Linked DNA regions of Homo sapiens. The protein of the gene in region 2 purifies or fractionates together with the protein of the main gene of each other region. This does not show direct contact. Each region holds a gene or a part of one and is shown on either strand. Other genes may lie near its edges.

Region 1 (3,959 bases), on a different chromosome or scaffold from region 2:
TCTAGGGCTATTCATTTCTCTACAGTCTTTCCACATTTTCTGAAATAATTCCTGGAAATTTGTTGTATTATTTCATAGCAATAAAAATACATCGGTTTCAATCAGTGGATTTAAGAAAAAAATATTTTCAAGAGGTTTTAGTGGTTTATCAAACATCAATAAAAATCAAACAATTTGAAAATTGGTCAGTCTCATTTCACTACTGCAAGTCAAATTACATGAAGAAGCATAATTTGAAATGTACATAAAATGAGAAAGAAGATAATCCAATAAGTAAGTGCAGTTACATTTAGTAATATCAGAAATATCCAGTCTGCTAACCTCTAGGTGTACCAGATGGACTATCAAACACATATTGAGTCATATTGAAGATTCAGAGCAAAATGCTTATGGCTAACTCATCCACCTTTATTCTTTTCCTGGCAAATATAAATAGTCTTACTATGCAATCACATTAGCAGCAATCTTAGCTTAGATTTTGTATCAATAATAAGCATGAAAAGAAAAAAGTAAGAAAATAGTATAAACTCTTTTCCTTGAAAAAGTTGTAAGTTTTTATGTATTTTGAGAATAGTTTGCTAAGAAAATTACAGACTTAGAAAGTGGGCCTATTAGAATAAGTACCCTTTCCCTACTACATTCCATTTTTTAATAAACCTCAAGTAAACTCAGGAATTTACCAAATCAATTGGGAAACTACAAATCATCTGCAAGTTATCTAACTAAATTGATAAGCAATAGGCCTTACTTTTCTTGTGAAAACTACTTTCTTCAGAACATCAACTGAGCCTTATATAATCACACTACACTTTTTGAAGTGTGCTTATAAAAATGGCAGATTGAAAACCTTGGGCTTTTTAATAATTGAAGCTCTTATTTATCTGTTTTTTAAATACATCATTTGATGTTGCAGCAGAAACTACTCTCATCTCACTGCCATAAGACGTGCTACCAGGACAGTGAAATTTAGCCATTATCTTCATTCACAACCTGGTTTCTTCTGAGATTGCTGCCAATTAGTGCACACTGTGTCAATGGCAACACTTGGTCATACATCAGGCAAACAACTCTTTTACCGTTAAGTATGAGGATATTAATAAGAACTTGCAGTTAAGGGAGCTAATATTTTTAGATGTAAAATGATGTCATAAATGCTGAATTATTTCATTTTTCTCAGTTTTTAAATTTGAACACTAGATACAGTCTATTTCCAAAAACACAGCTGCGTATGTCAGCATGTGCTTGTTCACTGGTATTTGCCTCCACTTTGTGCTTCTCCATTCAGCTTTCTTCACACACTAATTGCAGTATGAAAGTGAGCAAATGAACCTCAGTATGGGAGCTAACACCACAACTACATGGGGAGAAAGCGATATCGCTAAGAGTGAGTAGTCTTTTTTGTAACTACGTGGTTTTAAAATATGCTGCTTTTAGAGGGTTTATACAAACATGAAATCTACTGTTAAGAAACTGTGGCTTCAAAAAAAAGAAAGCAGGTGCCCTCCAGAGACAGTTTTAAATCCCAGCGTCTCTTAGTCTCCATTCAATGTGCTTAGTTACCAGCCTATGCTAACTTGAGCGACTTTATCCCAAACCACTAAAGTCCTCTGACTACATTAAAACGATTAACATCCTAGTTTACAATTAGAGAAATGGAGCCAGGCATCACAATTCCCACCAATCCTCTCTCTCAGGCCTGCTCAGCAGCCAGGGAAGAATCAGATTTAGGACCATGTACGAAGATTGCGTACCAACATATATACATACATTTTAAGTGGCTATTGTTCTTGGACTAAGTTAATGAAACCTAGAAAGAAACTTTAAAGTTCCCTAGTTGATATTTACTAAGGCTATTTAGTGAAGGAATGATCTCATCACTTTCAGTAAACTGTAGCCTAGACTATAAGCCTCCAAGAAAATCATTAGTCAACTGTAATTAAACAAACAAACAAACAAAAAAGTCAAAATATTCAGAGCTGAAGACATTCAGAGCTAAGTTAAAAGCTTCGAGGAAGAAGAGGAGTGTGCTCCTGACTTGGGAGCCAGCAGAGGAGCCTCCTAAGTTAGAAGATTCTGAAGGAGAGATGGATTAGGAGGCACAAAGCAGAAACTGTTAGAGGGCAAGAGACAGTAGGGCCGGGGCGGGCAGCGGGACCCCAGACCGTCAGGGCAGCAACAGCGAGGCCCAGAGGAGAAGATCTTGGAGAGATGACAAAGAAGCACAGGAAAGCCGGGTTCTGGGGTCCTAGAAGAACCCAGGCGTCCGACGGAGCCAGAGGGACCGGCAGAAAGGGATGCGAAGGTGTAAGGATGAGGGCGCGCACCAGCACGCGGGAGAAAAAGAGGGGGCGGCGGGCAAAATGAAGCTGTTTCCCTGCTCCTCTGCTCCTCTGCCCCTGGTACAGATCGCAACTCCTCGCCGCGCACCGCGCAGCGCCGGGTCCGAAGGCAGGGAAGCGGCTGCTGGAGCCCCTGTGACTTCAGGACCCTGCCTCACCTTGCTCGCCGCGTCCTGGCGTCCCGCCGCTTGTCCGCCGGGTGCTGCGCTCCGAGGGCCAAAGAGGGAGTCGCGCGGCGCAGCCGGGGCTCCCTCCTGCTGCGAGGCACCAGCACCCGCACCTTCGCACCCTCTGCTCGCCCCGACCACTTCACCCTGTCCTGGCGCAGGCGGAGAGCACGGACCCTAACCCGAATGCCGCTGCAGTTATTTTCAAAAGTCCCCGTTCCAGGCTTCCCAGGAATAGGAGCTGAGCTACTGCGGCCGCAGCGGCAGAGCCTCCGCCTGACCTCACCAGGGTGTGGGGGGGCTGCTGAGGGAGGGGGGCGGGAACCCAGTTGGGGAGGGAGGGGGCAGTGGGGGGGGGAGCGCGCGGGCGGGGGAAACATGGCGGCGGGGGTGGCCCCGGCGGCGCCTGCGCGGGAGGCAGGGTGGCGGGGAGCCGGGGCTAGGACGGTGTGTGGGGTCCGAACGGAACTCCCAGGCTGTAGCGAAAGCGTGACAGGGCCGGACCCTGAAGCTGAATGACCGCTAAGTGGCCCTCACGCCTCGGAAACCGGGAGGCTCTGGTGTGAGCCCACATGGATTCTAGTGCCGGGAGGCAGAAAAAGTGAAAAGTGTCAAGTATCCAGGGACAACAGTGCAGCCGCCCCGGGTTAGCCACTCCAAGGAGGTCCACCCGTGCATTCTGCCAGCCGTGGCCTCGGCCTCCTCATAGTCACGGCGGGGCCCGAGCAAAGGGTGTGCCCTGGAAGCGGTGCCACCTCACCTCAGTGGGGCCCACGTCTCAAAATAAGCCTGACCCAGGCTCTCACACAAATATCACTCTTCTAGTGGGATAAGCGCTTCATCCCTCCCCCTCCCTGCTGCAGTACACAACATTAAGAAAGAGGAAGGATAAAAACTACAAATAACAGTTTAACATTTTACTGAGCGTCTGCTATGAACCAAGCACTGAAGCATCAACTTACCTAATTCACAGCTACTCTACAAGTTACACACTATTGTCTCCATTTTACAAGTGACAAAACTGAGGTGTATAGGTTAACCAAGTTGCCAGAGGTTACATAAATAGTAAGTGGCAGAGCGGGACTCAGGATCCCAAGCGGTGTGATTCTGGTACCCAGGCTCTTAACCACTATGCAAACTGCTTCCAAACTCTGGTGGGACTGCTCTTCTAAGTCAGAATCTTGATTCTGCTCTATCAGCCTAGCCCCCAAAAAAAACCCCAGTCAAGCCTGTTTTTCCCCTTGCTTGTCTTCTATTCATTCTTTGCCTTCTTGACGGTTACAGCCTGGGGCCACCTTCTTACACCTATTCCTTTGCCCTTTCTACTTATAATTCCAGACTCCTCCTTGGGAAAATAAAGGGAGTTTGCTCTTAGCAACCAGTTTAATCACTATTGTGATTTTTTTTCTTTGGCTGTTTTTTTCTTCTTCTTCTTCTTAAGGAAGTGATGCGG
Region 2 (3,500 bases):
GGTGGGCGACCTGAGTTAGACATGGGGCGGGGCTGGGTCCCAGGACGAGGGGGCATATGACAGGGGCTGGGCTAATGTCCTGTGACTGATGCATCACTGAGGGTGATGGAGCCTGATGCCCGGTGATGCCAGCATGGGTTGCCTCTCCTGGCAGGGGCTAGGGGCAGCTGAGCTGTGGCTGAAGGGGCGGTGGGTGGAGGTGGGCTGGGGAGGGGAGCTCTGGGGAGGGGTGGGTGTCGGGGCCGGGGAGGGGAGCTCTGGGGAGGGGTGGGTGTCGGGGCTGGGGAGGGGAGCACTGGGGAGGGGTGGGTGTCAGGGCTGGGGGGGGAGCTCTGGGGAGGGGTGGGTGTCAGGGCTGGGGGGGAGCTCTGGTGAGGAGTGGGTGTTGGGGCTGGGGTAGGGATGGGGGCTGCTGGTGCTCTCACCTCCTCGATGGGGGCAGACGCCAGCCCCTCCACCTCCCAGGGGGCCTCCTGCAGCACATCCACAGGAGGCTCCCAGCCGCTGTGGAACTTGGGCACGTAGAGGGGCACCTGTGGCTCCCGCGGCCACTCGGAACTGGGGTGAGAGGTCCTGAAGTCAGCCCTGCCTCTCCAGAACTGGCCCACCAGGACCCCCTTGCTGGCCCCCATGCAGCGCTGGCCCCCCATGAAGCCCCGGCACTGCTCTGCCCTGCCCTACCGGGGCCGCATCCAGCTCTCTCCCAGTGACTCCCACAGCGACATCTCCTTAGGGACCAGGTGGCCGCGCAGGAAGTCCACGGCATCTCGGGAGAGCAGTGGGCAGGAGACGGAGCGTGCGATGTCTGGGCCACTGCAGGTGTTGACGATCTGGGGCACAGTGAGGTTCAGAGGGGACTGAGGCCCACAGACCCTGGCCCAGCACCCCCGTAGCTCCACAGGCTGGCCCTCGGGAAGGGACTTTGGACCCCAGGGAGAGTGGCCACACAGCGTGAACCGGGCTGCCCAAGGCGGGCACCTGCTGCCCCAACCCCGACCCCGGGGAGATGCTGCAGAGGCCTCTGGGCCCCCACCCTGCGCGCCCCTGCCGCCCGGCCCCAGGCACCAGGTCCAGAGGCCCGAAGAGGAAGTGCACGAGCTCCGCGGCGCTGGGGTTCTGGATGTGCTTCTGCAGCTTTGCCTGGGGGTGGGAACAAGTGAGCAGGTGCCGGGGCGGGGCGGGGCCTCCACCCTCCCCTCAGCACAGACAGTGGGGCAGGGCTGGGGCCACCGGACCCACCAGCAAGTTAATCGCCAGCTTGATTTTCTGGAAGCAGTCGATGAACTCGCCCTCAGAGGGGGGCCGTGCCCGCAGTGTGAGGACGCCCTCTGGCATGGGAGGCACCGCGTGAGCCAGGCTGGCCCTGATCTCCCCGGCCCCTGCGCCTTCTGTCCCACGCAGCCCATCTGTGTGGGCTGGACCTTCCTCCACCTCCATGAGTAGCCCCCATGGATGTCCCTGGCCCCGTCCCCGTCCCTGTCCCCTGCACCTGCTGGCCCCGTCCCCTGCACCTGCCGGCCCCGTCCCTGTCCCCTGCACCTGCTGGCGCCTTCTTGCCCTTCTTCTTCCCCTTTTTCCGCTGGTTCAGCTGCTTGAAAGCCTCGGCTGCCTTCTGCAGCCGGGCCACAAACCACTCGATGTCGTCCAGGGCGCAGTTGAGGATTTGCTGGGGTCAGAGGGGGTCAGGGGTCAGCCCCTGACACTCCCCACCGCCCCGCCTTGCTGCAGGGACAGCCCCACAGATGATGGGAGGAGCTGGGCCCCACACCTTCGGAGGGGCAGCCACAGGCTGGGGACTGGCCGGAGGGACAGCAAGGACCAGTGTCCACTGCTGGGGGCGGGGAAGAGAGGGGCCACCTGCCGGGCCCGGGCACCCACCGTCTCCTTCTCTATCTTCTGAGCCAGCACGGCCCGCGGCTCCTCCTGCGACTCCCGACGGCGGAAACCTGATGGGGGACACGGCGGCTGCTCACCGAGCCCCCCACAACGAGCCCTGTGGAGCCCCCTCCAGCCCCTCGGCCCACCTGGCTCGCTGAGTGGCACCTGCGGGCCCACGCGATTCTTGGCCTCCGGGGAATCCCCGCCGCGGTGCTGGAAGGGGATGGGCGCCGGGCCCTGGGGAGGAGGCAGGATGGACTGCCGCTGCCGAATCTTCTCCTGGTGTCCCCTGGAGGGCGAGGGGGTCCTGCTCAGCCCCGCCGGGAACGCACCTGACCCTCCCTCCCTGCCGGGCTCCTCCCCTCCCCTGCCGGCTCCTCCCCTCCCCTGCCGGGCTCCTCCCCTCCCCGCCCCCTGCGACCCCGCTCCGCCCGCTGCCCTACTTCAGGGTCTGCGGCCGCATCTTCTTGCCCAGCCGGCAGTCGGCCAACGCGCTCTCGATGTCCTCGTGCACCAGCTCTGCCTGGGAAAGCGGGCGTCAGGCGGCCAGGAGGGCGGGGCGCGGCGCGGCGGGGCCCCACCCTGCCCCGCCCGGCACCGCCTCACCTCCACCTCATCGCAGTGGAAGAAGTGGACATCCGGCTTGCTCTGCTCCGAGTCCTGGCACACGAGCAGCAGCACAGACGGGTAGCGCAGCTGGTTGAGGACCGTCTGGCTGCGCTGCACCGTGGGCAGCGGGAAGTCTTCCAGCTCCTCCTGCGGGTACATCGCGCGGACACGACTCGCACCCGGGGTCTGGGCACTCTGGCAGGGAGTGGCCGGAGCTGTGGACAAGCCTGGAGCACAGGCCCCTCTGGCGCCGCTGGGGAATGGGCTCCCAAAGATGAGGACTAGGCCCGGGACACACCCCGCAGCTGTACCGCAAGGCTGACCCCGGCTTCCAAACTTCCCTGGACTCTCAGCTCTATGCGGCCCTCTGCCCACCCTTGTCCCATCCTCTTCCAGGGACCAGAATGATAGGGCATGGCCGGCCCTGCAGAGAGGACCGGCCGCACATCCGGGCTGCAGCCGGTGGCTGCCACCGCCTCTACCCACTGTGCTCCCTGTCCCCCGTGGCGCTGGGCCCCACCTGTGACTCGATGTCCAGCAGCCGCAGCGACTGGTCGTTCACCTGCAGCAGCATCTCCTGGGTCCAGATCTTCTCCTTGGAGCTCAGCTGCACCAGCTTCCGGATGGCGTCGTCCACAGACGTGATGGCTTCGCTCTTGTCCATGATGAATGTGGCCAGGTGCTGGGGGTGGGCAGGTGGTCACTGCTGGGCAGAGCCCTCCTTGTGTCGAAAGCCCAGCCCCCAGGGGCCACAGCCTGAGGGGCTGAGGGGCCACAGCCAACCCTGGGTAGGGGGCTAGAACGGGGACCGGCCCCGCCTTTGGTGGGGGGAGTCTCTATTCTGCCTTGGCAGGCATCTGTAGGGGCCATGCTTGTGTCCTGAAACTATCCTCAAAGGAATTCCAACTGCTGCCCGGCCCCGCGCCACCATCCTCACCCGCCCACCTCCTGGTGCAGGCTCAGTACCCGCCCACTGCACCAGCTTTGCCAGCCTCCCCAGCTCTCTTCCTTCT
Region 3 (4,094 bases), on a different chromosome or scaffold from region 2:
GGAAAGAAAAGACTTAAGAAGAGCCAAACTTTACAACAGAACCGGAGCCACACACACAGGCAGTTCCACAACACCAAATGGTAAGAACCTCACATTCCCTCCTCCCCATTATTTACAGGTCAAGCCCCAGGAGACAGAAAAGAGAAAGACACATTAAGGAAGCCAACAAGTGGTTGGGAATCAAACTCAAGTCTAATCACTTCTACTCAACACCACTACAAAGAAATCTCAAGAGTGGAGAAGCCATCGTTCCTGAAAGTTTCCCATTATCAATCTGGGGGTTTCACTTTGGTTAAGCTCACAAAATGATGTTTTCACAGTAGGACATTAATGCCTAGCTGTGGTAGGTGTTCAACAAATGTCAATAATATTAACCCTGCTTTTTGAGTAAGTTATCTAAAGCTATAGATACTAACATCCAGAGAAGTCAAAAGACAGTTTTCAGTTAAGGAAAGTATTTCCTCCACTGTGCCTCGCACTCACTGGCATTGCCTATAAAATGCAACCTTCAAACTGGAGACAGTTTATCAAGATCCTTTATTTCTTTAAACCGGGAGCAAAGGATTTTTTCATCTTACAGCAGAACCATATCTTCATTTGTTTTTTCCTACTTTATGAACCCTCCAAAATATAGCACTTACTTAACATCAACCTTAAAGTTGACTGCCATAGACTGGACTTGACAAAATGTTAATTTCAAATCTTCTAAACTACCCAATTTTTAAAAATTACTATTTTTTTGAACTTTAAAAAATAACATGTTTACAAATATAATTCCATTCCTATGAAGTTTTAGAAAAAATTATGGTGTTAGAATAGTGGTTATGTTGAAGGTGAATGCAGTGAGTATGTGTTAGGAGGGGAACCTTGTTCTGTATCAGTAATACTCAGTTTCTTGACCTGGTGCTTATTGCACAGGTTGGTTGCACTGTGTGAACACATAAAACCTCTATCTCTCTGTAAGTATGATATACTTCAATTACAAAAACATATATTCACTTGCTTATTGGAGAGGATGTGAAAAACATCCACATTACTTTTGAAACCAAAACTAAGTACAATCACCGATGTTAAAAGTAAAAATTTTGAAGCGACAAAATCCACTTTAGCTGTCTCAAATGAAAAGTCCTAACCAGAACTGGAAGTAGGCAAGCTCTCACAGGATTTTAGAGTCAGCAGCTAATTTCATGAGCACACGGAAGGGCTGCCTCCATGGAGTGAGAAAGAGTAGACAGAACCCATTTGAGTCCTAATAAGCATATCTAGAGCACAAGGCTACTATGATGCTGCTTTGGGGCCAAAGGAAAACCTAACTTGTATCCAATATCTATCCCAAAGGTTATCTAAACACATTTGTAACCAGACTATACCTTATTTGCATTGCCTGAACCCTGAGGCCGCTGTAATCAACCTCTTTTTGCTCCAATTCTTTCCATTCATCTTCGTCCTGTAAAACAAACGCCATTTGATCAATTAAAGCTATTTGTAGACATATAACTAAGCAAATAACACACTACGAAAAGTGGATCAAGTGGCTGGAACCTAAACTAAGTATGTACTTGTCTTCTGGTCAAAGCCCTTGCTTCGTTCTGGGGCAAACTAGGCTAAATGGAGGACAAACATGCTCGTAGGCTAACACTATACTTCCGCTGGGTTCCTGCATGGGAGCTGTTACTTTAAGCAACTAAGAAAAGCCGAAGGAAGAAGTCAATAGGAATTTCACAACTACATTTCTACTTCAACCTTGCCACCGAGAGTTTTCTTTTTCTTTCACGGGCTTAGAGACTAAGTCATCACAAAAGAGCTGCTACAAATGCGGCTGCTGAAAGCGAAAATTCAGCTCAAACTACTGGGCTGAGGTCAGCACACGGAATTACTCAGCCTAGACGTCACCCGATAAACGCTGCTCTGTGCTGGGCACTGCGGCCCCAGACCTAGTGCCCCCGGAGGGTGGCGCCGCCCGGGCCTTGGCTAACGCCGAGCGACGCGGGGTGGGAAGGGCGGCTCCACCGCGGATATCGGAAGGGGTCCCGGCCCTGGCGAGCCCAGCCCGAGGTGGAGAGCCTGCGTCACGTGGCGGCCCGCGCCCGTCCGCCCGGCCTCCGCGGCCCCTCCCGGACGCTTCCCCGGCAGGCGGGGGCGGGCACATGGGGCGCCGGCGCGCGGCCCGGGCCCCGAGTGCCGGCCTCCCGGCCCCTCACCTTCGTCACAGCCTTGGTGGCGGCCCCTGGGCCCGCAGCCCCCGCGCTGGCGGTCCCGCCGTCACCCGGCCGGGTCCCCGCGCCCGCCCCGCCGCCCGCCGCACCCGCGGCTCCACTGCTTCCGCCGGCGCTGCCCGCTGCGCCCGCGGCACTCGCCGCCCGGTTGCTCCGCTCCTTCTTCTTCTTCTTGTCCCTCTTGGCAAAGAAGTTGTCCAGGCTCCGCTCCTCCGTCTCAGCCATGGCCTCGGCCTCCTCGACCCGGATGGGTGGGGCCGGCGGCGGGCGCGGCCCGCGGGGCTCCGAGCTCGGGGTCGAGGCCGGCTCTGCGCTCACGCTGCCGGGCGCGGCGACGCCTCAGCCCCGCGGGGTCGCCGAGGCGTGCGCGGCGAGACGGGCGGCTCCCCCTGCGTGCTGGCGAGCGGTGGTACGGTCCGCCCGGGGGCTCGCGCGCCGCCGCTGTCGCCCGAGGCTGCCGGGGCTGCCGCTGCTGCTGCGACGGCGGAGCAGGATTCCGCTCTCCCCACAACCTGAGGGGAAAAGGCACGCGCGAGCCAGAGGTTCTGGCGAGAGTGCTCGGCTAGCAGCGGCGCGTGCCGGAGGAAGAGGCGCGCGCGCAGGCCTGGAGAGGAGGGGAAGGGAGTGGGGAGGGGAGGGAGAGGGAGGAGGGAGGGCGGGCCGCTAGAAGAGAGAGGAAGCGCCTGCGCCTGCGTATTTTGCTCTGCCTGCCGCTGTGGGATCGCCAAGGGGCGGGCGGCGGGAGGAGATGGAGGCGGAGCTGGAAAGAGAGCCAATCAGGTGCCAGGACGAAGCTCTTAGGTGACAATCCCTGACCCAGACGGGGCGGAGTCCAAGCATGGGGGCGGGGAGAGGAGGGCATATGCAAAATAAGTGACGTGCCGGGCGACTCCGGTTTCCCGATTGGCCGAGGGTTTAGTCTTGAGGGCGGGCATGTTGAGGGCTGGTTGATGACTTGGCTAAAGAGGTCCAGCAGGAGGGGCAGTGGGTTCCTTTTGGACGCATGCGCAGGATGCACGTGTGTTTCCTGGCCCAGAACAAACCGTGGCCCCATAGTAGTCGTTTGAACTGTCGCGAAACGGACAGGCACTGCGTTAAGCCAACTGTGTTAAAGATTGTTCCTCTCCTCTGATCGCTTCTGTACTTCCACCCCCTCTGGAGTGGCAACCATTACTTTTCTTCTTTACCGGTTGATTGTGAAAGTGAGAGGAGCAGTGAGCCTGAAGTTTAGGTCCCATTTACTAAAAGATCTTTCATAGGCTGGTTGGTAGGTAGAAAGGGATTTTGTCTGAACTCCACCCTCTGGATTATGTTTACCAAGGTCAAGTTCAATAAATCCTATCGTCAAGTCCCTAATCTGTAAAGTGGGTATACTATTTCTTACAAGATAGGGGGATGGAGGGAAGAGAGTCAACATTATTAGCTGCTCAGCACATTGCTTAACGCCCTGACTTGAGTCTAGATGATGATACAGTTTATCCTTAGCTTCTATCCCTGATAAAAGGAGGGGACTGTCTTATCATAGGGGTGGAGACCAAAATGCCCAGGCGAAAGCCAGGTTTAAATGGGTTTAAAGCCCATTTAAATACCCTTGGGGCCTTGAAAATGAAATGAATTCTATATGCAAAAGGTGGTCTAAAGTAAGCTCTTAAACTTTCTACTTCCTCCTTCTAAAAGCAGAAGAGGGAGCTGTCACAACCATTGAGGAAATGACTCAGACAAATGTTGGTAGCCATATGGGGTAGATAGAATCCAGCCAGTAAATGGAGAGACTTCTTCGTCTTTTCCTTTACAGTTACCCCATTAAAGTTTCTCTTTTCCTACCCCCTACTTACACTGCTATTAAAGAATTAACTTCTGGCTGGGCGCGGTGGCTCA
Region 4 (3,500 bases), on a different chromosome or scaffold from region 2:
GATCCCTATTATCTATAGTTAAGGAGTTTGGATTTTAACTCCCTACCCCAGCACATACACAAGAGAATTCATAATGAATTCTCTTGTGGAAGAGATCCCTGACAAAGGCAATATCAGTAAGAATAAATTAGAGGCATTTCTGAGATAGGGTCATTAAATTCATTTTTTTTCTTCTTTTCTGGGAGCCTCATAGAAGGGTTGGTTAAGTTAACATTAGGACTTTGGGCTGGGGAGAATCATTGGGTGGTGATGACTTTCATGCTGTCAGAGGCAAAGTCGAGGAATAGGTATTTCAGAATGAATGTCAAGTTTGGATTGTGGTGACTATATCTAGTAGACAGTTCATTGAAAAGATATTGTACTTCCTATATTGGAGAAAAGTTGAAGTCTTAGGAGTTGGTGAGGTGATCTGTGCAAGTGAGATGAGGAACCAAGAATGGAACCTGGCCCCTCCATTTTTGTTGAAGGGTTGAATAGAGAAGGAAAACCCAAATGAAAAACAGAGAACAAATGACAGAGATAAGAACAGATCGGGAGAGAGTGGTGACATCGAAGGACCAAGGTGAAGAGTTTTGAGAAGTAAGGCATTGGGAAACAATGTCAAATGTTGTAGGACTATTCAGACAGAGTAAGAACTGAAAGAGGTGAGTGGGAACCTTCGTAAGAATAGTAGAAGAGATGGGGGCATAGGCCAGATTGTAATGGATTGATTTGATGAGGAATTGAGGGAATAGAGATATCCAGGAGAGATTACTCTTCCAGGACTTTTTTTTTTTTTTTTTTTACAAAGGCATGGAAGGGATGCAGTGCTATCAGTCAAAGGCAGTAGGACTGAGGAGAGTTTTGTGGTGTATGTTTTCTTGCTTGTTTAGAAGATCAAGAAGATGAGCTCTTTCTAGTTGGAGGAAGAGAAGAGATTTGAAAATAAAGAGAGTGAATGTAGCTAGAGGGGTGAAGACCTGGAGGAAATACTATGTAGTAAATAGATGGAGATAATTATCTGGCCAGGTCAGCTTTGGAAAGGTGGTTACTCCTTTCTTGAGGTGCCACTAAAGAAAGGAAGGTTGTATGCTAAAAGTTAGAGAGCTTGCATGGGATAGAAGGCTTATGAAGAGAGTTAAAGGTATGAGGCTGACTGCTAAGTTGAGGATTGCTGATGAATTATTATTTTATTGCTCTTCAGGTTATGCTAGTGTTTCCAGTTTTGTTTTCAGTTTTTACTTTTTTACTTTTCCCTGAATAAGCTATGGCTGGAATCATCCAAAGATGCATTGTTTGAAGTAGGATGGCAGAGGAATAGGTATGACAGAATTGAGCATGCAGGTGGCAGTGACACTGAATTGCTTAGCCATATGTCCCAGGCTCTATAGTGAAGAAAGTCAGTTCCATTGAGAGCTAATAGAGTAGAAGATTAGAGAGGGATTGAGGGACTAGAGGCTTTTTCTTGGGAGCGGGGGCGGGGTGGCGGACTAGAGGCTTTTAAGAAGAAAAGATTGTGTTTGATAGAGCTAGAGGAGAAAGGCATTAAAGTGAAAGGGGAAGGAGGTTGAGCGGAGAATGAGATTTATACATTTAATATTCTAGAGACACTCATTCTGGCCTAGTCCAGGATTTATCCATGGTAGTAATTCGTTTAAATTGACTACAGGTGAAAGTGGCTTGGTAGAGTAAAGATCCAAGAACTTTAAGGCTGGAGTGTTAGATGGTGCCTGGTGGTGAATATGGAAACTCTCCAGAATGAGGTGAGAGGGAGAGAGATGAGAGATGCCAAAGGCTGCTATGAGTTCTAGTCTGTTATGAATTCCAGAGCTTCATTTCTTAAAGGTCTGGGAATAATAGTGGTAAGGTAAAGAATGTATAGTATAGCTCAGTGTGTCTCACCCCTTTTCATGTCATGGCATTCACAGAAGGTATTTCAGTGGGGCCTTGGAGGTAGATGGAGAAGATTGCTTGTAGTCAGAGTCCACTGGCCCTGAGGCTCCTGCTGCCCCAGAACATTACTAGCTGCCCCAAGAATTGAGGGGAATGATATTTTGGTGTATCTACAATGCATTTTAATCTCATTGTTTGAGAAGCCCTGGTATAGCTGAGTGAACTAAACCTCTTTTTTTTAAAAAAGAGAGATTATTTGGAAAGGATAGGAGAACACTGATTCAGAACTATCATTGTGATGTTGAAAGAATGCTGACCCAAACAGGTCCTGAGATTTGGATGTGAAATGTACCCAAGAGAGGGCCATACAGGAGAAGCTGGGTGATTCTTAGGGCCTGGTTTGTGTAAAACGTTGATTACATTGATGGGGATTGTTTTGCAGTGAGCAGGTCTATGCATATGTACCCCCAGAGGCCAGGGGATCTGAGAGGCCAGAGAAAGAGGCTGGCAAATCCAGTTCTCAGAAAGAAACTAAATTTATATAGGGACTTAGAAACAGAAGCTATGGCTTGGGTGGCTGCGAGATGGTGGATCCCCACACTAGCCCTCCAGAAATTATCCTTTATGTAGTGAGCTTTTTTTCTTGGTAACACTTGCACAGCTGGTCACATCTCAGACCCTCTTGTCAAACTTGTGACCATTGAGGAAGTTAGGTAAACATCTTTATGAGTTGTCATTTATGCTACAGGCATTGTTTCTTTATAAGGGTTATCTATGTTACAGGCAGTATTTCTTGACCTTGCTGCAGAAGGCCTTGCTCTGCAGGAGTCAAACATTAGTCATTATGACAGTTTTGCTTCAGGATGGTGTTACTCTTGCCACACAACACGCCCTTTTCCTACAGGGATAAATGAGGAAATGATAGGTGACAAACACTAAATTGGAGATCTTGCACATGAGACTATCTTACAGTATGATCTGGGGGTAGTCACGTTGGTGAATGGCCAAATTTAACAAGAGAAAGTAAATGGAATTAGATGGTCTTGTTCATATGGGATATAGTAGAGAAGGAAATGTGAACTAGGTGTTGAAATTACCCAAGGAGATGGAAATAAGTTCTGGTGGGCAGTGGACTACATAGACTTCAATAAAGAGAGCTAGAAGAGGGTATTGTGGTTTGGTCTGAAAATCTTTCTATCAAGTTAATGTTTATCATGAAGCACATATACTAGTATTTTTTGGGGAAAAGAACTTAAATTTCTTTTAAATTTTAATCTATCAGAACACTTTATTCATAGGTACTGGCTATTCTGGTCAACATTTTTGGAGGAATCATGCGCTGTGATGTTATTGCACAGGGTATAGTCATGGCAGTAAAAGACTTGGAAATTAAAATACCTGTTGTGGTACGGTTACAAGGTGAGTATAAAAGGTATCTTGCAGTTGTTCCTAATTCTTTAAAAGTTCACATTTCCATGGAGTTCAGTTTGTTAAAACATAGTTTTTAAATAGCTGTGTCTTTGAAAGCATTATACAATATGAAATTAAAACTATAGTTTTTAAAACATTTTAACATTGGGGCAAAATGTTTATACTTTTGCTTGGTATAATTTGATACACTTTTTATT
Region 5 (3,500 bases), on a different chromosome or scaffold from region 2:
CATACAAGCAACAAAAGTGAATCTTAAAAGCTGGGCTGAGAACCATCAGTAAGGAGCCTCCTGGATGGGAGCGGAGCAGCCCACACTGAGGTGCTCACACAGACCTGTCTGGGCACTCCAGTGCAGAGCAGAGCTGGGGTCTACCCACAGAGCCCCAAGACAAGGCCCGGCACACAGGAGGAGACAGGGGCTTTCTCCTTTGCCAAATTCCAGTCTCTCTCTGAAGCACATCACTTGCTAGTTCAGAAGAGCCCCTGCAGCCATGCAGCTTGGCTCTGGTAACATAGGTGACATCTTCACCTGACTTCACACAATGCTCAAACCACCATCACGAGGTCATTATCACATTTATTCCCACTTCTCATTGTGTGGCTCCCCCAAGTCACACAGGGAGTCAAGTCAGAGACACTGCTGGACAGGACCCTGCCTCCTGCCATCTGGAGGCCTCTCCTTCCAGCTCTCGGAGAACTCTCTCACACTATGAACTCCCCTCTGCCCACAGGCAGCCCCACCCTGTCTCCCCTCAGCCTGCCCCAGCCTCGCCATTCTGCTCTTGCCACAGACTTCTTGCCCTCCTTCTTGCCCTCCTCGCCTCCTGTGTGAAACTTCTCCCTTGGCTGCCATGACACCGCATGGCTTGGCTCTTCTCTGGACTGCCCCTTTTCTGACCACTGTCTTTCCCAAGGTGGAGAGGGGCAGACAGAGAGAGAGTACTTTAGAGAAAGTCTGGCTGGCTGGTGCCCACCAGGAAGCAGTGCTGTGCTGGGAAGCAAGGCTGGGTACAGAGAGTTAAGGCCAGCCCTCACCATGGAGTCAGCGCGGGGAAGTGAGAACACTGTGGACAACAGCTCCAGCTCTGCCCCAGGTCTGGCTCTATTGTTTGCCAGCAACAAGACTTCAGGGAGGTAAGTTTACAGCTCTGTAAAACAAGTAGAATCATCTTTTTGCATTTTCTTTTACCTTTGCTGGAGATCAAATAAGGCTGATGAAATAAACAGGAGAGCAGTTTACTAAACATGATTAGCACCCAGCAGATACTATCTTGAAAAAGGACAATGTTGGCTGGAATGAACAGCAAATCCATATGAGGCAAGACTTAGGGTGGAATCTACATGAAACTGCCTTCCGTGTCCACATGGAGAGCTGTCATTATCACCTACTACTCTTTTAACTTCTAACGAGAAAAACAAGGTGGCAGGTTCCTCACTGTGGCCTGGAGAATTGCCTCAGGCCTCACCAAGTGGGAGCAGGCTGTCGGGTCCTGTCTGTGGAATGGCCCAGATCAACTGTGGAGGTCACTGAGGGCCCGCTCCTGAGCCCTGGCTGTTGGGAAATCAGTTTCCGGGCCCTGATTTGCTCCTGTGCTTTCCTCTAGCCTCTACTCACACTGCTCCCCGACCCCCCGCCCCCACCGCCCCCGGGGGTGACTCCCTGAACCCACTGAAGAGAATGCTAATGCACACCCTCGGGCCCCTGCCGCTCCCCTCAGCTGCTTAGCTTTTCTGCAGAACACTTACCATACTTGCCACTGAACTGAGGGGCAAGTGCCTCCATGAGGCAGGTTGTTTGGTTTGGTTTTTAAAGTAGTGTTCATCTCGGTAGCTCTAGTAACTGGGCCCTAGTGGTTTCTCAACAAATATCTTTGAATAACTGCTGGCTTTTATGTTTGCTGAGTTTTGCCAGGTATTGTATTTCTCAGCCTCCACGGATTTTTGTGGTGGGGGTGGCATGACTTACTTGAGATCTGGCCACCTCTGCTTTCTCTTTCTTTCTTCCTGCATTTATTTGAAAAATAAAACAAGGGCCGGGCACAGTGGCTCACACCTGTAATCCCAGCACTTTGGGAGGCCAAGGTGGGAGGACAGCTTGAGCCCAGGAGTTCGAGACCAGCCTGGGCAACACAGATCCTGTCTCTACACAAAATAAAAAAGTGTTAGCCACGCATGGTGGTGGGTGCCTGTAGCCCCAGCTGCTCAGAAGCCTGAGGTGGAAGGATCCCTTGAGCTGAGGAGGTTAAGGTTGCAGTGAACCGTGTTTGCACCACTGCACTCCATCCTGGGTGACAGAGCAAGACCCTGTCTCCCCAAAAAAAAAAAAAAAAGAAAAAGGAAAAAGTGCTGTACGTGCAAAGTGTCACAAGAGGAGGGCATTTAGTTCTGCCCAGGGGACCCAAGGGATGTTGTCATGAAGGGGAAGCAAGACTTTTCAAGAGGAAACAAAGAACCATTTCAAGCAGAGGGAAGAGTGTCAGCAAAGGCAGAGTGGTGGGTGGGGGGACCTCAGTCATCACCCTGGGGCCTCATCACTTCTCAACACCTACCCAGGTGAATGAGGAAGCACACCCACGTTGCCATGTCCCAATTCAGTGACCGAGAAACAGAGACGCTTGAAATCACAGCCGCATCAGAACTGAAAAACATTCTGCAGTGATTTTCTTAGGAAACACGCCTGGAGAGGGAAGTAACCTGCCCAACGCCCATGGCTGATCCGCGGCAGAGCCTGGACTAGACAGCAACCTGACGCTCCGCCGTGCAGTAAGGCTCTTCTGCTCCACCTGGCGACGCAGCAAAACCCAGCTCCAACTTTTACTTCCTGCTTTGAAGCTGTTTTTCACTCCAACTTTTTAATCTGAAAAATTTCAAACCTACAGGAACATGTAAGGGACACTCTTTTACCTTTCACTAAACCTGCCCATGGTTAACATTTGCCACATGTGAGTTATCTCTGTCTTTCCCCTGAGCCATTTGAAAGTCAGCTGCAGATACCATGATACTTCAGTCCTAGGGACCTGAGCATACATTTCTTTAATATAAGGATATTCTAATATATAACTTAAATACCATTGTTACAACAAAGAAAATCAACACTTTACTAAAAATCTAATACAGAGTCCATACTAAAACTTACCCATGTAATCCCAGCACTTTGGGAGGCCAAAGCAGGTGGATCACCTGAGATCAGGAGTTCGAGATCAGCCTGGCCAACATAGTGAAACCCCATCTCTACTAAAAATACAAAAATTAGCCAGGTGTAGTGGCGCATGCCTGTAGTCCCAGCTACTCGGGAGGCTGAGGCAGGAGAACTGCTTGAACCCAGGAGGCACAGGGAGGTGTAGGATGCACTGAGCGGAGATAGCTCCAATGCACTCCAGCCTGAGCGACAGAGGGAGACTCCGATGCAACAACAACAAAAAAGTTACCCAATTTTTACAAAATGTTTCTGATTTTTTGGGATGTAGGATCTGCTCATGGATTACATTTGATCGAGCCGTCTGCTTACTCCCTTTCAAGCTAAGCTAGGATGTGAAACTATTTAAAAATTTTTCATTGATAAAGATGTTGTGTGTGTGAAGAATTCAGGCCAACTGAATGTAGACTGTAGGTTGGTTAAGAGGTGACTGCCAGATCTCCAATGGAAAGCTATATTTTCCCCTTAGTAATTATTAAATCATTTATAGGGTGCCATTTTTTTTTCTTAATGGGCACAGGTGTGAAACAGGT
Region 6 (4,285 bases), on a different chromosome or scaffold from region 2:
ATAAGAGTACACTGTTAACTGAAAATGAAAAAAATAAATGTATTTTTTGAGACAGGGTCTCGCTCTGCTGCCCAGGCTAGAGTGCAATGGTGCCATCTTGGCTCACTGCAACCTTAGCATCCTAGGCTCAAAGATCCTCCTGCCTCAGCCTCCCAAACAGCTGGGACTACAGGCATGCACCACCATGCCTGGCTAATTTTTGTATTTTTTGTAAACACGCGGTTTTGCCACATTGCCCAGGCTAGTCTTGAACTCCTGGACTCAAGCCATCTGCCTCATTACAGGCATGAGGCACCATGCACGGCCAAATAAAGCTCATTAATCTCCCATTTTCATGGGTTTGACATTGCCTATCTTCAGATTTGCTACTTTGAATTTAGCACATTATATACATCTCTAGACTTCCCAAAAAGTATAGTCTAAGATATAAGTGGCTAATCAGATTTGACAGTTGGCTTTCTGAAAGTTTTGTTCCGACAAACCTAGAATACTTACTTCAGGCTTTGCACCATTACTTGATACACCTATTCCACGGCTTGTTTCTTTGGCTGAAGGAACAGTTCTGAGACTAGCTGGCAAGTCAATGTTGGTTGTTCCTAGAGCTTTCGCTGCATTGGTTTTTGCTATTTCTAACAGCTCCATTCGATCTAAAAAAAAAAGAGAGAGATTTTAAAATACTCATTAATCTGGTAGTTATTTCCCAAGAGAACTCAGAATTACACAATAAATATGTTATTTTGTGGTATTAAATATATTAAGTCACTTGTTTTATAATAGGTAAACTAAGGTTGCCCTTGAACACTAGTAGCTGCGCTGGTCCACTTTATACTTGTTTTTTCTCCCCCTTACTAAATGCAGATAGAAAGTACCACAGTGTTTGAGAGACTGTAAACCCCAAGTGTGCGCGAGGGTTCCATATGCATCCTGGCACCAATCCCCCGAGTGAACAGAGGGACAACTGTGTAACTTTATTCACTGAAAATTCTATTCTCCAGCTCATTTCTTGCTGAAAAGAATAAAATTCTTAAATTATCTCAACAATTAGTTTTGTTTTCTTGACTAAAGGCCTGAGCGTCCTATTATTTTGTCTTTTTGTTGTACTTAATTTTCTCTAGCTAATAGTGATATTATTTTGCTTTCTCTTCAAAGATGTATTTCTGAAAACCAGGTTTTTCTGCTGTAGATTCTTTATATAATTATCACAACCACTGAACCAATACTGATACACTACTAAAGTGTATTTCTACCACCACCCCCGGCTAATTTTTGTACTTTTACTAGATAGTGAGCTATGTTGGCCAGGCTGGTATGGAACGCCTGGCCTCAAGTGACCCACCCGCCTCCGCCTCCGCCTCCCCAAGTGCTGGGATTACAGAGGTGAGCCGCCGCGCCCGGCCTCCTAGGTCACTTAGGATACTCGACAATCCAATTTTATTCAGTAATAATGTCAACTAAAAGAAGGCGTGTTTTGATATTGTTCTTCCCAATCACGTTAACTTAGAACCTTTAACTTAATCATAACATTTAAAAGGCTCCACCCACTAAGAACAGTCAGCCAATAGGAAAAAAAGTTCCCTACATCCTGAGCCATTTAACATCCAGTTGACCTTTAACCCTAAAGAGAATGCTGTCCACTTAAATACAGGTAATGTCCTCCCTCTTTCCTCCAAAAAGATTTCGGGCACTAAAGGAACTAATATTGAAACTACACAGCAACGTTGGTTCCCTAGCCTACTCATATACTGCCACCATACATTACCACAAATGGAAAGGTAAATGACCCACCCACCTTTTTCACTTAAGCGAAAGGGGGTTCTGCTCCGCGACCTCGTCCTGGATCTGTCCCTCCATCTGCTGTGCTCCTCCGGGTACACTGTGCGACCAAAGCCGTAGTAGCGCTGTCCCCGCGCGATCGCGTACGCCCTTCCGCAGTACGACCTTCCCCGAGAGCGCGACCTGCTACGGGACCGGGACCGGTACCGCGAAGGAGACCGGTAGTATCTCCTGGTGAACCCGTAGCGCCTCTCTCGGTAACGGCGGCTGCGGGATCGCGACCGGCTCCGCGAGTATGACCGCGAGTAGCGCCTGTACTTCCGCTGGTGGCGCCTTCGGGAACGGGACCTGGACTTGCTCCTCCGACTCCTGGACGAAAACCGGCTCGAGACGCGGGAATGGGACCGAGAGCTTCTGGAAAAAGAGCGGCTCCTAGACCGCGACGACAGCCGGCTGGACCCGCCCGACCGCGAGGTCGAGGGCGAATCCTTCTCCTGCGGCGAGCCCGGCCACATGTCGTTCACGTAGTTGGACATCTTCACCTGCGGCTTTAGCCTGCGCTTTCTCCGGAAAGGATCCCGCAAGCCTCAACTCAGGACTTCCTAAAAAACCAAGAGAGAAAAAACAAGTCGAGTCGCGGAAGCCGGCGCCTGGCCACCCGGAAGCCACAGTCGGGGAACCTCCGGGAGGCGGAGCCACGGCGCGGGCGGCGACCGCCGCGACAGGAACCGAGCCCTAGAAACCCCGCTCGGCGCCCTGAGGCCGCGGCCTTGAAGCGAAACGCTGCGTTCCCCAAACGCGGGGCCCGGCACGTTTCCCGTCCCTCACTCCTGAGAGACCACTGCGGTGGTCCTGAGAGACCCCGTCAGCAGAAAACTTACCGCACGCCGTCGACGCCTCCCTCACGACTGAGAGAAAGGCTCAACAGACGCCTTCCTTTCGGAACGTAAGACGAAGTGGGGCTTTTAGTCCCTGCTTTCGAACGGCGAATTCCACAACCTCCACCTCCTACGTCCGGATGCGCACTGAGGGACTACGTTAGCAGACGCGTCAAAAGTACCAGAAGCTGGCCCCCGGCGCATGCGCAGAGATGTTCCGTGGTGGGCGCGGCTCTTCTCTTGCCCAACCACCGCCCTGCCTCCTCCCTCCCCAAGCCGCGCCCTGTGCCTCGAGCGCTTGCCTCCAGGGTGCGCATGCGCGATGGGGCTCCAGGGGGAGGTGTTTGATACATCAGGGTGTCCCGTTGCCCTTGGCTTCCCCCCTGATCTGAGATAATTGCGGGACCGACCCAGTCACCAGAAAACTTCGAAGATGGAACGGCCCCGCGTGGGGCTACACCAGGCTCTGGCCTCACTGCACGGGCGGGGCTGGACGTCAGTGCCGGGCGGGGAGTAGGGCCGGGAGAGGAGCGGCTGCAGGCTGGAGAGGGCTCGCAGCCGGGCTCGGAGCTGGGGCCGTCTGACGGGCTGGTGCCCACAGGGTCGTTGCCGCCACCCACCGGCAAGTCGCAGACCCGGCCTGAGCCTCCCTGGACCCTTCCTGGCCTCTTCCTCCTGTCCTAGGTACCGCGGCGCCAGGAGAAGGCGACCGCGTCCACACCCCGCCATGACAGAGAGGGGACCTCACCCTCCCCCGGAACACCCCAAGACCCCTGGAAATGCAGTATTAACGTAGAAAAGATGTTTTACTTCCATGTTTTGGCTAGGAAGGTAATAAGGTCGAGACAAAATAAAAAGACTCAAAACTGACCTTTAATCTGGGGATAATAATGAAGTCTGCGATATCTCTTCCAAAAACTGTGTTTGGTGTGAGTGTAAACAAAGGTGACTATTTTACTTCTAGGGATCTACAAATGGGATGCATTTCAAACACTTCTTGTAATAAAGCATAACAATTGCCTTGAAAATTGTGGGTTAATTGCCTTTTTTTTTTTTTTTTTTTTTGAGACAGGGTCTCACTCGCCCAGGCTGGAGTGTGGTGGGGCCATCACGGCTCACTGCAGCCCAGGCTCCCGAAGAGCTGGAACTACAGGCATGCACCACCATGCTAATTTTTGCACTTTTTTACCCACGGGATCTAACTGTGTTGCCCAGGCTGGTCTCCAACTCCTGGGCTCAAGCGATTCTTCCGCCTCAGCCTCCTGAAGTTTTGGGATTACAGGCGTGAGCCACTTTGCCCAGCCTATACACTTCTTTACAAGTACATTTTGACAAAAGCCACTTTCTTTAGAGGGAGACACAAACTCACTCATCTCTTGTTCATCTTCACCCCACATCTCCGCAGTTCATCCACATCTCCTGAGGATGCATCATGATGGAAGTAGTTCTTAAACAGTTTCTTCTCTAAATCTCAAGACAGTGAAGATACAATGCCCATCCATCAGAAACCTTTGCCGAAAGTTCTCATAAAGCTGTGTGAGTGGACAGAAAAATAACACGAGGCCAGTCGCGGTGGCTCACGCTTGTAATTCCAGCACTTTGGGAGGCCGAAGCGGGAAGATCACCTAAGATCA
Region 7 (3,500 bases), on a different chromosome or scaffold from region 2:
CAGGTAGCACATCAGAAAGAACCTGCGGCACAGAGGGCGGTTGGCGAAGAGCAGCCTCCTCGGCAGCTGGGGACCTGATGTCAGGCTGGGCCTGGCCCAGAAACGGGGCGTGGCCCGGCCCTGCCCTGCATGGCTCAGCAAGGTCTTCTCAACCTCATTGCTGCCACCTCCATGGCCTGAGGCAATGAGACTACTGTGGAGGAGTCCTCGGAGCCAGATCGCAGAGGATGGGCAAGGGTTTGCTGTTGGAGGAGGTAGGAAGGGGAGTAACAGGGCAGAGCTGAAGAGGGTGGTGCAGGGGCAGCAGGAAGAGCTCAGTGCCTGGAGACTCTAGGCCACATTCAGGCCTCTGGCCTGAGTGACCAGCTGGATGAGAGGCTGCCATGCATGAAGGGGAGGATGGAAGATAAGCTGGACCATTTGAATGCAACCAGTCAGAGATACTTAAGAGTCACTGCGGTGGGCGTGGGAGTCCCACGCATGGGCAGGGCCAGCTGCATGAGCCCTCCAGGAAGGCACCCGAGGACGGGTGCGCAGGAAGGCAGGAGGACCCACACAGGGCATGCCAGGGGGCAGGGGCTCCCAGCAGGAGGCCCGAGATAAAGGCTGAGATGTAGCCTCTGATTTGGGCACAAGGGGGGTCACCACCCAAGATGGCTGTGGCAAAACAGTTTCAGGTGTGCTCTTGGGTGAGAGGAAGGGGTGTGGGGGGGTGGACAAGAGGGTGCTGGCTCCAGCAGGCCTGGCTGTAGCTGGGATGGAGCCTGCTCAGGGGTACAGGGCCCCTGTCAAGTCTGCAGGCTGAGTGGGCAGGGAAGAGGAGGCCTTTCATAACCGCACAAGCAAGAAGGAGCGTCAGCCACGGAGCAGGGTGGGCGAGGACCCCAGCCTGGACAGAGTCAACCAAACAAGCGCTGCCTCGGGGTCCCTGGGAGTCACCACATGCTGGCCACTCCCTGCAAGGCACTGGCACGCAGATTTGCCTGGCTGATTCCAGAATGTTAAAAGCAAATGACTTTGAAAATGGATGGGTTGGGCATGGTGGCTCACGCCTGTAATCCCAGCACTTTGGGAGGCCGAGCCAGGTGGATCATCTGACGTCAGGAGTTCGACACCAGCCTGGCCAAGATGGTAAAACGCCATCTCTACTAAAAATACAAAAAATTAGCTGGGCGTGGTGGTGCATTTCTGTAATCCCAGCTACTCAGGAGGCTGAGGCAGGAGAATTGCTTGAACCCAGGAGGCGGAGATTGCAGTGAGCCAAGATCATGCCATTGCACTCCAGCCTGGGTGAGAGAGTGAGACTCTGTCTCAAAAAAAAAAAACAAAAACCAAAAAACAAACTAACAGATGGAAGGGGCAGCAGTGGCTTCATGGAGGCATGAGGGACGCGGTGGTTGCCCTGTCCAGTGGGAAGGTCTGCCGGCCACCTGCTCTGGGGGCCTCAGGGAGGTGTGGACATATTGGTCACCTTATAGCTTTGGCATAGGTGCCAGGCTTGCTCCTAAATGCAGGGGTGGGCTGAGCCCTGTCAGGCCACATCTCCCCATGCAGCCTGCCACATCTCCCAGCTGGACCTCCAACACCAGACGCAGCCACGGGGAGGTGCTGGGGTTCAGGAAGCCTTTCCCCATCCCCCTGCCCTGCCCGGCCCCAGCTCACATGGATAAGATGGGGGCCACCATGTCGAGGGAGGCGATGAGGATGCCCAGCTCGGCGATGAGTGCCGTCAGGAGGAGTGCCCATGTGGGTTCACCATTCACCTTCCCGTGGCCAAACACCTGTGTGCACCAGGAAGGAAGCTGGGTCCTGTCACCCCCATTCCACACCTTGGGCCCCAGACCCCAGCCTGGCCTCCCTCACCCCCAGGGCCCGCCTTGGGGGCTCAGGCCGCCCCTGTGTCTATCCCTATGGGTGTCACCAGTCTCCCTGATTCCACCTCACCAGGCCTCTCTCCTTTGGATGAGCCCTAAACAGGCCATGAAGATTCTGGGTCCAGGCAGCTCCAGGCCCAGGTGAGTGCCAGGCCCAGGGCACTTCTCAGTAGCTCCTCATGGATGGCCGCCTGGCCCCGGGGGCCAATAAGGGCAGGACGTGCTGCATCTGTGTTCCCTATCTCTCTCCCCAGCCGGGCGAGGGCCTGGGAGCAGCCAGGCCATGGGGGAGTGCAGAGGGGCTCACCCGGAGGAAGGGGATGATGTTGTCCTTGGCAATGGCCTGCAATAGGCGTGGTGCCCCTGTGAGGCTCTGGAGGCCAGCGCCACACGTTGAAAAGAAGGAGCCGATGACGATGACCCAGGGTGAAGGCCAGGCCAGTGTGCCCACCACCAAGTTCCTGCTGACACCATCGCCATACCTGCAGGGGCCACCAGAGTGAGGGATGTCAGGGGTCCGGAAGGATGGCACAGACCACCAAAGGCAGCCAGCAGGCTTAGGACCACCCACGGGGTTGGGAGCTGGTGTGAGGGCAGGCCAAAGCCCAGCCGCTGCTAAAGAGGGGGGCCCAGCTCACTCACTTGTCCCGGAGAACCACACCCTCAATGCAGGCACCAAAGAGAACCACACTGCTGAAGTCTGCGGCGGCGTCAAGGAAAACTCGGCCTCTGCCACCCCACTGTCCCTGAATAGTACCACGTGCCCCCACCCCAGCCAGACTACCAGGACACCTACAGCTGGGAGTCTCGTGGTGTGTATGTGCATGTGTGCATGAGAAGGGGAGCTATATATGAGTGTGTGGGGTGTCTGTGCATGTGACCTGGCAACGTACACAGGCCAAGCGCTTCCCGTCCTCTGCCCCACCTGCCCCAGGCCTGGGAAAGGATACACACGAGGGAAGTTGTAATGATGGCCAGAATGGTCCCCACAGGGATAGACTTCTGGGCGTCACGAAGGTCCCCAGAGCGGTTTGAGCCAGCCATGATGCCTCCAAAAACAGATGAGACTCCCTCAGGGGCTCCCCGGGATTGGGGACAGGGCTGGGTGGGTAGGCAGGCAGGGCTCACCTGTTACAGAAGGGAAGAAGATGCCGACCAGCACGGTGAAGGATGTGGCGATGTCAGCGACCACGTACAGAGGCAGGCTCTCCTTCAGGCTCGGGGCATCTGCGGAGGGCAGCCCATGCTTCTCCACGATGTCACCCTTCTCCAGGTAGGCGCTCCACAGGTTTTCTGCAGGGGTAGCTGTGTCACCACCACAGCTGCCCCCCACTACCCCAGGTAGTTTGGGGCAGCCTAGCCAGAGGCGCAGATGCAGGGCAACTTTGGGGACTCAGGGAACAGCTTCAGCCCAATGACTGCAGCGTCAGCCACAGGGCTACCCTGACCACAGAGAAGGAGCTGCCCAGCTAGAAGTCGACAGACAAAGGTGGCTGAACCACCGTCACCCAGAGCCCGCCACTGCCCGCCTTCCACAGAGGCCTTTATGGATCCTGTGGGAACATCCCCAGGCAGTGTCAGGGGCTGGTGGCTGGGGAAGACAGGCTGCTGCAGGCCTTGGACGCT

The links.
Region 1: the proteins of EPS8L2 (region 2) and KLHL13 purify together in Homo sapiens (co-immunoprecipitation; one large-scale study listed by IntAct). This does not show direct contact.
Region 3: the proteins of EPS8L2 (region 2) and CDV3 fractionate together in Homo sapiens (co-fractionation; one large-scale study listed by BioGRID). This does not show direct contact.
Region 4: the proteins of EPS8L2 (region 2) and SUCLA2 fractionate together in Homo sapiens (co-fractionation; one large-scale study listed by BioGRID). This does not show direct contact.
Region 5: the proteins of EPS8L2 (region 2) and EVL fractionate together in Homo sapiens (co-fractionation; one large-scale study listed by BioGRID). This does not show direct contact.
Region 6: the proteins of EPS8L2 (region 2) and RSRP1 purify together in Homo sapiens (co-immunoprecipitation; one large-scale study listed by IntAct). This does not show direct contact.
Region 7: the proteins of EPS8L2 (region 2) and SLC12A4 purify together in Homo sapiens (co-immunoprecipitation; one large-scale study listed by IntAct). This does not show direct contact.

The regions. Positions count from the first base shown.
Region 1 is NC_000023.11:118,114,011-118,117,969, forward strand, and holds the start of KLHL13 (kelch-like protein 13), read right to left. Parts: upstream 2,801-3,959; 5' UTR 2,498-2,800; intron 1-2,497. UniProt on the Homo sapiens protein: Substrate-specific adapter of a BCR (BTB-CUL3-RBX1) E3 ubiquitin-protein ligase complex required for mitotic progression and cytokinesis.
Region 2 is NC_000011.10:719,731-723,230, reverse strand, and holds part of EPS8L2 (epidermal growth factor receptor kinase substrate 8-like protein 2), read right to left. Parts: intron 3,170-3,500; coding exon 3,008-3,169; intron 2,635-3,007; coding exon 2,485-2,634; intron 2,402-2,484; coding exon 2,322-2,401; intron 2,168-2,321; coding exon 2,025-2,167; intron 1,947-2,024; coding exon 1,879-1,946; intron 1,667-1,878; coding exon 1,540-1,666; intron 1,329-1,539; coding exon 1,240-1,328; intron 1,141-1,239; coding exon 1,066-1,140; intron 831-1,065; coding exon 682-830; intron 559-681; coding exon 426-558; intron 1-425. UniProt on the Homo sapiens protein: Stimulates guanine exchange activity of SOS1. May play a role in membrane ruffling and remodeling of the actin cytoskeleton. In the cochlea, is required for stereocilia maintenance in adult hair cells.
Region 3 is NC_000003.12:133,572,392-133,576,485, reverse strand, and holds the start of CDV3 (protein CDV3 homolog), read right to left. Parts: upstream 2,801-4,094; 5' UTR 2,442-2,800; coding exon 2,202-2,441; exon of another isoform or gene 1,730-2,201; intron 1,448-1,729; coding exon 1,371-1,447; intron 1-1,370.
Region 4 is NC_000013.11:47,949,274-47,952,773, reverse strand, and holds part of SUCLA2 (succinate--CoA ligase [ADP-forming] subunit beta, mitochondrial precursor), read left to right. Parts: intron 1-3,170; coding exon 3,171-3,291; intron 3,292-3,500. UniProt on the Homo sapiens protein: ATP-specific succinyl-CoA synthetase functions in the citric acid cycle (TCA), coupling the hydrolysis of succinyl-CoA to the synthesis of ATP and thus represents the only step of substrate-level phosphorylation in the TCA.
Region 5 is NC_000014.9:100,071,922-100,075,421, reverse strand, and holds part of EVL (ena/VASP-like protein), read right to left. Parts: intron 1-3,500. UniProt on the Homo sapiens protein: Ena/VASP proteins are actin-associated proteins involved in a range of processes dependent on cytoskeleton remodeling and cell polarity such as axon guidance and lamellipodial and filopodial dynamics in migrating cells.
Region 6 is NC_000001.11:25,244,655-25,248,939, forward strand, and holds the start of RSRP1 (arginine/serine-rich protein 1), read right to left. Parts: upstream 2,801-4,285; 5' UTR 2,655-2,800; intron 2,376-2,654; 5' UTR 2,310-2,375; coding exon 1,790-2,309; intron 648-1,789; coding exon 496-647; exon of another isoform or gene 1-495.
Region 7 is NC_000016.10:67,948,138-67,951,637, forward strand, and holds part of SLC12A4 (solute carrier family 12 member 4), read right to left. Parts: intron 3,168-3,500; coding exon 3,003-3,167; intron 2,924-3,002; coding exon 2,825-2,923; intron 2,575-2,824; coding exon 2,517-2,574; intron 2,357-2,516; coding exon 2,182-2,356; intron 1,782-2,181; coding exon 1,663-1,781; intron 23-1,662; coding exon 1-22. UniProt on the Homo sapiens protein: Mediates electroneutral potassium-chloride cotransport when activated by cell swelling. May contribute to cell volume homeostasis in single cells. May be involved in the regulation of basolateral Cl(-) exit in NaCl absorbing epithelia.